Homo sapiens: one gene and its partner. The main gene of each other region encodes a partner of the protein of the gene in region 2 in a complex. Each region holds a gene or a part of one and is shown on either strand. Other genes may lie near its edges.

The links. Proteins that work in one complex are often made in the same cells at the same time.
Region 1: the proteins of SF3B3 (region 2) and DDX42 are in contact, whole or in part, in a cryo-EM structure (PDB 7EVN), measured with the Homo sapiens proteins. Residues at the interface, in NP_036558.3 of Homo sapiens: Glu159, Ala160, His161, Tyr211, His219, Val220, Val221, Arg222, Lys223; in NP_031398.2 of Homo sapiens: Lys145, Gly146, Ile147, Arg148, Asp149, Asp150.

Annotation. Positions count from the first base shown.
Region 1 is NC_000017.11:63,771,900-63,775,646, forward strand, and holds the start of DDX42 (ATP-dependent RNA helicase DDX42), read left to right. Parts: upstream 1-2,270; 5' UTR 2,271-2,477; intron 2,478-3,208; exon of another isoform or gene 3,209-3,279; intron 3,280-3,747. UniProt on the Homo sapiens protein: ATP-dependent RNA helicase that binds to partially double-stranded RNAs (dsRNAs) in order to unwind RNA secondary structures. Unwinding is promoted in the presence of single-strand binding proteins.
Region 2 is NC_000016.10:70,521,644-70,525,390, forward strand, and holds the start of SF3B3 (splicing factor 3B subunit 3), read left to right. Parts: upstream 1-2,172; 5' UTR 2,173-2,285; intron 2,286-3,747. Other genes in the region: COG4 (conserved oligomeric Golgi complex subunit 4), read right to left, coding at 1,730-1,900. UniProt on the Homo sapiens protein: Component of the 17S U2 SnRNP complex of the spliceosome, a large ribonucleoprotein complex that removes introns from transcribed pre-mRNAs.

The DNA of each region.
Region 1 (3,747 bases), on a different chromosome or scaffold from region 2:
AGTGAAACCCCACCTCTACTAAAAATACAAAAATTAGCCGGGCGTGGTGGCAGGCACCTGTAATCCCAGCTACTCGGGACGCTGAGGCAGGAGAATCGCTTGAACCCGAGAGATGGAGGTTGTAGTGAGCCAAGATTGCGCCACTGCACTCCAGCCTGGGCAACAGGGTGAGACTCTGTCTCAAAAAAATAGATAAATAATAAAATAAAATGTCAGCTCTACCATTTACCAGCAATATGACCTTAGCCTAATTACTTAAAATTCCCTGTTCTCCACATACAAAAAAGGGATACCATTTGCTACTTGCCTCTTAGGGCTGCAGTGGGTATTACGGGAGATATGTACCAAGGGTTTTTTTTTTTTTTTTTTTTTGAGACGGAGTCTGACTCTGTCACCCAGGCTGGAGTGCAGTGGCACGATCTCGGCTCACTGCAAGCTCCGCCTCCCGGGTTCACGCCATTCTTCTGCCTCAGCCTCCCAAGTAGCTGGGACTACAGGCGCTCGCCACCACGCAGGGCTAATTTTTTGTATTTTTAGTAGAGACGGGGTTTCACTGTGTTAGCCAGGATGGTCTCGATCTCCTGACCTCGTGATCCACCCGTCTCGGCCTCCCAAAGTGCTGGGATTACAGACGTGGGCCACCGCGCCCAGCCTCCTTTTCAAATCCTACTCTTAAAACTTTTTTTTCATATAGAAGCAACTAAAAGTTAACACCGGAACAGTCAACTCGATTAACAGCCTGCCAAAAGATCCGATCATTTCAAATTGAATTTCCAATTAGAATATTCACACCATAGAAACACTTCTGAGATAACTCAGCACTATAATGGAGATCCTTCAAGGTTATTTAGGTTACAATCATCCAAGCCATTTTTACCTTGGTTTTCCCTCTTAGAAGTCTCCGCTGCACCTGTCAGTTCTCAAATGCACAAGTCCTTGCCAGACCACCCAGCCTCTATGACTCCTGAAGCAAGCAACACAGGACCAAGGAAAATTCACACAAGCGCTAACAAGTCTGGTTTGATTATTTTCTGCAAGCTCATCCAATAGTTCCTCAGCGACTGAGTCTAGACTTGAGGAAAGAGGACTGAGTGAGGCCATCATTCCTTGTTGTCATTTTAGATTAGGTCTTCCTGACAACGGCCAAAACGAGTATTCTGGAAATCATGCAGACTTTCCTCTGTCTCTTTATATGTGTTGGATACAAACACGTTTCATTTTAGAAACCTCCAGAAGAGACTGGCCACAGAGGTTTTTGCTTCTATTAAACCCCTTTGCCTAGTTTCTCCCCACCCAAGAGAATCAATACATCCTAATGTCATCCTCCGGCACACACTGTACATTTCCTCTAACTCTGCCCTTTTGGCTATCATTTGCTCACAGCTCCGTGGGAAAGTTCCCCCAAACCATTACAATTATCTCAACCGGACCGGGCTACAGGCCAAGCAACTCGGAGTCACCGCTCGGCCTGGCCCGGCCACGCCGACGAGCGCGTCCTGGCCCGCTCCTTACCTGTGGCCGAAGCCGAAACCCGGCCCAGCGCCCTGCGTCCGACACCCCTGCCCGGCCTGCCTCTCGGCCTGGCCGCCGCCTCCGCGATCGCAGCGGTTTTACTGCCCCGGATGCCTCTAGGACGCAGCCAGAACCGTAGCTCAGTCACGCCGCGCCTCTCTTCACGTAGCCTCCGCCGTCCGTTACGTAGAATGCGAGCGGCTCGTCAGCGCCTGCGCGCAGCCTGCGGGGCGGGACGCAACCCCGGGGAAAGCGCGAGACCTCCCTCTCTCCCGCCCGGCTGAGGCGAGGTGGGGCTTTTGGGAAAATTACATAATCCCCGCCCCTGGGCCGGAACTGCCCTCGCCTATCCCAATCCTCCTACCTAGGATTCCGTCAAGTTGACGTCACACGGAACCGGTGCTCCGGAAGCTAAAGGTGGCCATGCTGTGTGGGACCACGTGGCCAGAGGCAAGAGTGTCGCTCTAGTAGTATATGCAACAGTTTAAACTATAGGCATGTTCATGTAAATATGGTTTCTGTCCAACCCGTTTTCTCTTGGGATTTTTGGCTAGCCCCTTGACGCCACTTTTTCTTCATTCGCAGACCCACTTTCTAGATGGGTCATGAACACTGTCCACCCAACTGCAGTTTCCCGTCAGAGTATCTGAGGAGCCTGTGAGGCGTTCTGGAGCTTTAAGGTCAGGCGCCTTCCGGGAGCCGTAGCCCCGGCCCCGCCCTTCTGCCCGCGCGTTCCTCACTGCGCATGTCGCGTTTTTGTTCCCCTCCCCCCTTCAGCAACGGGCCGTGAGGCGGTGGCGGTGGTGGCGGTGGCGGCGGCGGTGGTGGTGGTGGCGGCGGCGGCGGCGAAGGGGGCGGAGAGGAAGGAGCGCGGCGGGACCGGGCCGGGACAGCGCGTACTTTGGGCTCCGGGATTCGCTCCGCGCCCGCGGTTGTAGCAGCTGCCGCTGCAGCCATAGCAGCAGGTTTGTGCGTGGGGTTTCTGGACGCAAGGCCGCCAGTCCTTGGGGGCACTGGAGGCAACTGCTGGGCCTAGCGAGGGCGGAGGAACCGCGGCCTCGCTTAACAAAGAGTCGGCAGAGCCTCGGGGCACCGGCGGCCGGGGTGCCGGGAAGGGGTGGGAGTGGGGGCTGAGGCCTCTAGGGTTCCTTCCTAGCCGCGTCGCCCTCCCACAGCTCCCGCTTCCCTCACAAGTCTTACCGAGGCCCAGTTGGCGGCTTTCCGGAGGCGGCGCCCCCTCGCCTAGGAAAAGGATTTGCAGGGTGCCCGGCTCCAGGGCAGGAATAGCGCGGGGAGAATTCTGACCCAAGGAGGCAGCGCTTGGGAGATGCAGGCCTCCGAATTTGGGGTCCTGAGAGGCAAAAGCTGCCAAATGAGAGGAGTGAAAAGATATAGGCGATGATCTTTGTGCAGCGTTGAGTAGGTCGATTATTAGCATCACTGTAGTCACACAAACTTTTTTGCGGCCTACTTGAGAGCGTATCTGATGTGAATAAATAATTTACATGGAATTGCAAACATATGCATCAAAAACAGGAGAAGCTGTCGAGAGTTTTGGGGAATTACATTCTCATCACTGAGAATTTCCCTCTTGCCCCCACTCCTATAGGCAGTTATCCAATTTCTTGTGGCTTCCCTGTGTTTTCTTTTTGTCAATGATGTTTCTATGTCTGTCCTCTCTCGTATACACACCCAGGACTTCCTCAAGCGCAGGGACTATGTCTTAAGGCGCTTTGCAGAGCCAAGCTCATTTCTGGCACATAAGAGGTGAGCAATGAGTGTTTCGTACAAAAATTAATGTTTATATTTTGACAGCTGGGAAAAGAAAATATATCTTCCTGTACCTGGAAGAAGCATTGTGTAGCCTAATGTGCAATTCGTTCATTCAAGGGGTATTTTTATTGGTGCCTATTCTCTAGCGCCGTTCTAGGTGATAGGGATAGGTGTTAGACCCCTGCCTTTGGGGAACTTAACTTTCTAGTAGCGGGAGGAGAGGCAAACAGATACATATATTATACTGAATGTTAGAAGATGATCAGTATCTTAGGGAAAAGAAAGCTGGAAAGGGGGTTGGGGAGGTGGTGGTGTTGGAATTTGCAATAAAGTGGTCAGGGAAGTCCATACAGACAAGCTGATATTTAAGCGGACTAGAAGGTGGAGTGAGAGCCTACGTTTATCTGGGGAAAGGAACGTTCCAAGCTAGAGAATAACAAACATAAAAGCCTTGAGGAGGAC
Region 2 (3,747 bases):
ACATATTAAATGACTGAATGAATGCGAGCTTAGGAATGTTAAGTCAAGATACTAAATTTTTTTTTTTTTTTTTTTTGAGACAGAGTCTCACTCTGTCGCCGAGGCTGGAGTGCAGTGGTGCGATCTCGGCTCACTGCAAGCTCCTTCTCCCTGGTTCACGCCATTCTCCTGCCTCAGCCTCCCGAGTAGCTGGGACTACAGGCGCCCGCCACCACGCCCGGCTAATTTTTTGTATTTTTAGTAGAGACGGGGTTTCACTGTGTTAGCCAGGATGGTCTCGATTTCCTGACCTCGTGATCCATCTGCCTCAGCCTCCCAAAGTGCTGGGGTTACAGGAGTGAGCCACCGCGCCAGGCTTTTTTTTTTTTTAAGAGACACAATTTTGCTCTTGTTGCCCAGGCTAGAGTGTAATGGCGCTATCTTGGTTCACTGCAACCTCCGCCTCCCAGGTTCAAGCAATTCTCCTGCCTCAGCCTCCCGAGTAGCTGGGATTACAGGCATGCGTCACCACACCCGGCTAGTTTTGTATTTTTAGTAGTGATGGTTTTCACCATTTTGGTCATGCTGGTCTCGAACTCCTGACTCAGGTGATCCTCCCGTCTTGGCCTCCCAAAGTGCTGGGATGGCAGGCGTGAGCCACCGCGCCCCGCAAGATACTAAATTTTAAAACACATCTTGCTGAGGCCAGACAAAAAAAGCCCCACACACTAAACTAGCCAGGCACGGTGGTGTGCGCCTCTGGTTTCATCCATTCTGATTGCAGCACAACAGCACTCCAGCCTGCGCAACAGAGAGCGGCCCTGTTTCTAAAAATAACAAAACAAAACAAAAAACACCACACACATCTTGCTGAAAAACGTATCAGAAACTGCTAGAGTTAGTGCAAGTTTATACTTGAAAATACTCAAAGATATCAACGATCACCTCTCCCTCAGGCTGAAACTGCCTTTTGTGCTCAACTTTGCTAGAAGTTTGGTCTGGGAAACAGCTGACAAGCTTAGAGCTTAGATCTCTTTTGACTAGCAAGGAACCCAACTGACATTCGAAAGTGAATTGACAGCATCGAGTTGCCACTGAAAATTAAAGGAGGCAGGAAATAGAACGTTATGAACTGAAAGGAATTGGAGAATAGTCCACACCCCTCATTTGATAAAATATCAAGGGTACCAGAGATGAAGTGACTTGTCCAAGATTAGAGAATTGTGTCTGAGTCTTAAAAGCTAAACCTCTACAAAGATGTGCATTTGACCAAAACGCTAAAATCACACCCCCAAATCACTCCCCACAAGAGGAAGTCTTAAAACGCTTCAAGAAGTTAATCTGCAAAGGCTTCCCTCTTAAATAACAGGATGAGAGCGTTTCATAATTTGTAAATTAAGCCAATGCAAAAGGGCGCTTATTATTTTGAGAACCAAGCAATTTGGCAAATACTCTCAGACTAACTTTACTCCCGTGGAGAAACTGGTGATCATGGATCAGGGAAATCAACGGGGGTCTAGGGAGGAGAGGCTGCAGATCGCCCAGGTATCAGGGAAGACAAGCTCGGCGCGTCCGACAGCGTGAAAAGAGTTGACAGGACTACTCATATACCCGACTAGCTTCCGCTTCTTTGTTTTCCCGCTTTTTTGTATCCCCCAGCAAGGAGAGTTTCCCACAGCCCGGATTTCCCGACTGAAGGCTCCCACTCTCCCTAGATCCTCCATGAAAAAGAAGAGGCTCGACCCCGCACCTCCTCGCCGCAGAGCCGTTCGTATACAGCCTCCAGCTCCTGCAGCTCTGTCAGGGAGCGAATGAGCTCAGCGGAGATTTCGGAGCAGCGGCCACCTCCCACCCCCTCAGACGGCTGCTGCACCCCTGACAGCTTCGGAGGCGAATCAAGGTCCGCCATCTTGGTCCCCATTCGGCACTTCCGGTCCCGCGAGGCCCCCTCTTCGTTGGCGCCTATTTGGGGCTGCCCACAGAAGTGCCCAATGAACTCTAATGGTTTTTTTTTTTTAAAGTCTACTTCTAAAAACGTATTAATTTTCTATTCTCCTGGAAAAAGCAAAGCAATAAAGCATGTTTAAATAATTTGTAATGCCGTGTGGAAGCAAGACGGAAGCATTTTTTAAAAATTATATATATTCTTCAGGCGCGGATTGGGTGCCTTTTTCCGCCGCGCGCCACCAGAATGTCCCTGTCTTGAGGTCTAATGGCGGACGCCAGTATGTTGGAGTTGGTGGTGGCTTAAGTTTTGAAGGGAGGTAGCATCCGTTGGATATCCACACCATCCTTCTCGCTGCAGGGTAAAAAAACAGCCTGGAGACTTCCCCGGGCCCGGGGAGGCGGAGACCGGCCATATGGAAGGGGGACCCGAGACTTTGGCGGGGGTCACGGGCAGTCTAGGCCCGAGAGGCTGGGGACCAGGAGGAGGTACCGAGGGATGGTTGAGGCGCCAAAACGGCTTCCTGCAGTTATCTCTCGCTTCCATCCACAGTGTGGGAACATATTCTATCTCAAAATAGGGCTCGTGGAGATTGCTTTTAACTTCTGGGGACTCTGAGACGGGGGAGGTGTGACAAGCAGCGGGAGGCATGGATGTCTCCCTCTGGGTAGAGTAAATGGTACACCGAGGGGAAGATAGAAAGATGGAGCGTGTTAAAAGCGTAAATAACGGAAACAGTCTTTAGAGCCAAGACTCCGGTTTGAATTTGTATTTTGGTAGTTGGGCAACTTGTCTCCTCCTCTGAACCTCTATTTTCTCGTTTGCGTAATGGAGGACAGAGTTTAAATGCGATGATGTTTCCTTGGAGGATGGAGAAGATGCAGTGAGCAATCATACAAGCTTTTTGTAATAATGGTAAACAGACGTGGGGGAAGTTTTTTTTGTTTTGTTTTGTTTTGTTTTTGTGACGGAGTCACAGTCTGTCGCCCAGACTGGAGAGCAGTGGCGCGATCTCGGCTCACTGCCATCTCTGCCTCCCGGGTTCCAGCGATTCTCTTACCTCAGCCTCCCGAGTAGACTAGCTGGGATTACGGGCGCGTGCCACCACGCCCGGCTAATTTTTCTTTTTTTGAGACGGTGTCTCGCTTTGTCGCCCAGGCTGGAGTGCAGTGGCGCGATCTCTGCTCACTGCAAGCTCCGCTTTCCGGGTTCACGCCATTCTCCTGCCTCAGCCTCACGAGTAGCTGGAACTACAGGCGCCCGCCACCGCGCCCAGCTAATTTTTTGTATTTTTAGTAGAGACGGGGTTTCACTGTGTTAGCCAGGATGGTCTCGATCTCCTGACCTTGATCCACCCGCCTTGGCCTCCCAAAGTGTTGGGATTACAGGTGTGAGACACCGCGCCCGGCCCAGACGTGGGGGAAGTTTTAAAGCTTACCAAATTTATCTGGTATGTATTTTTTGTTTGTTTGTTTTGTTTTTGAGACGAAGTCTCGCTGTCGCCCAGGCTGGAGCGCAGCGGCTTGATCTCGGCTTACTGCAGCCTCCTCCTCCTTGGTTCTAGCTATTCTCACGCCTCAGCTTCCCGAGTAGCTGAGATTAAAGGCGTGTGCCACCGCGCCCGGCTAGTTTTTGCATTTTTAGTAGAGGGGTTTTCACTGTGTTGGCCAGGCTGGTCTCAATTCCTGACCTCAAGTGACCCATTTGCCTCGGCCTCCCAAAGTGCTGGGATTACAGGCGTGAGCCACCACTGCGCCTGGCCTCGTATATAGTTTTTCTAGTACTGGACTGATCCTCCGAAATGCACCTTCCTCCACGATCCA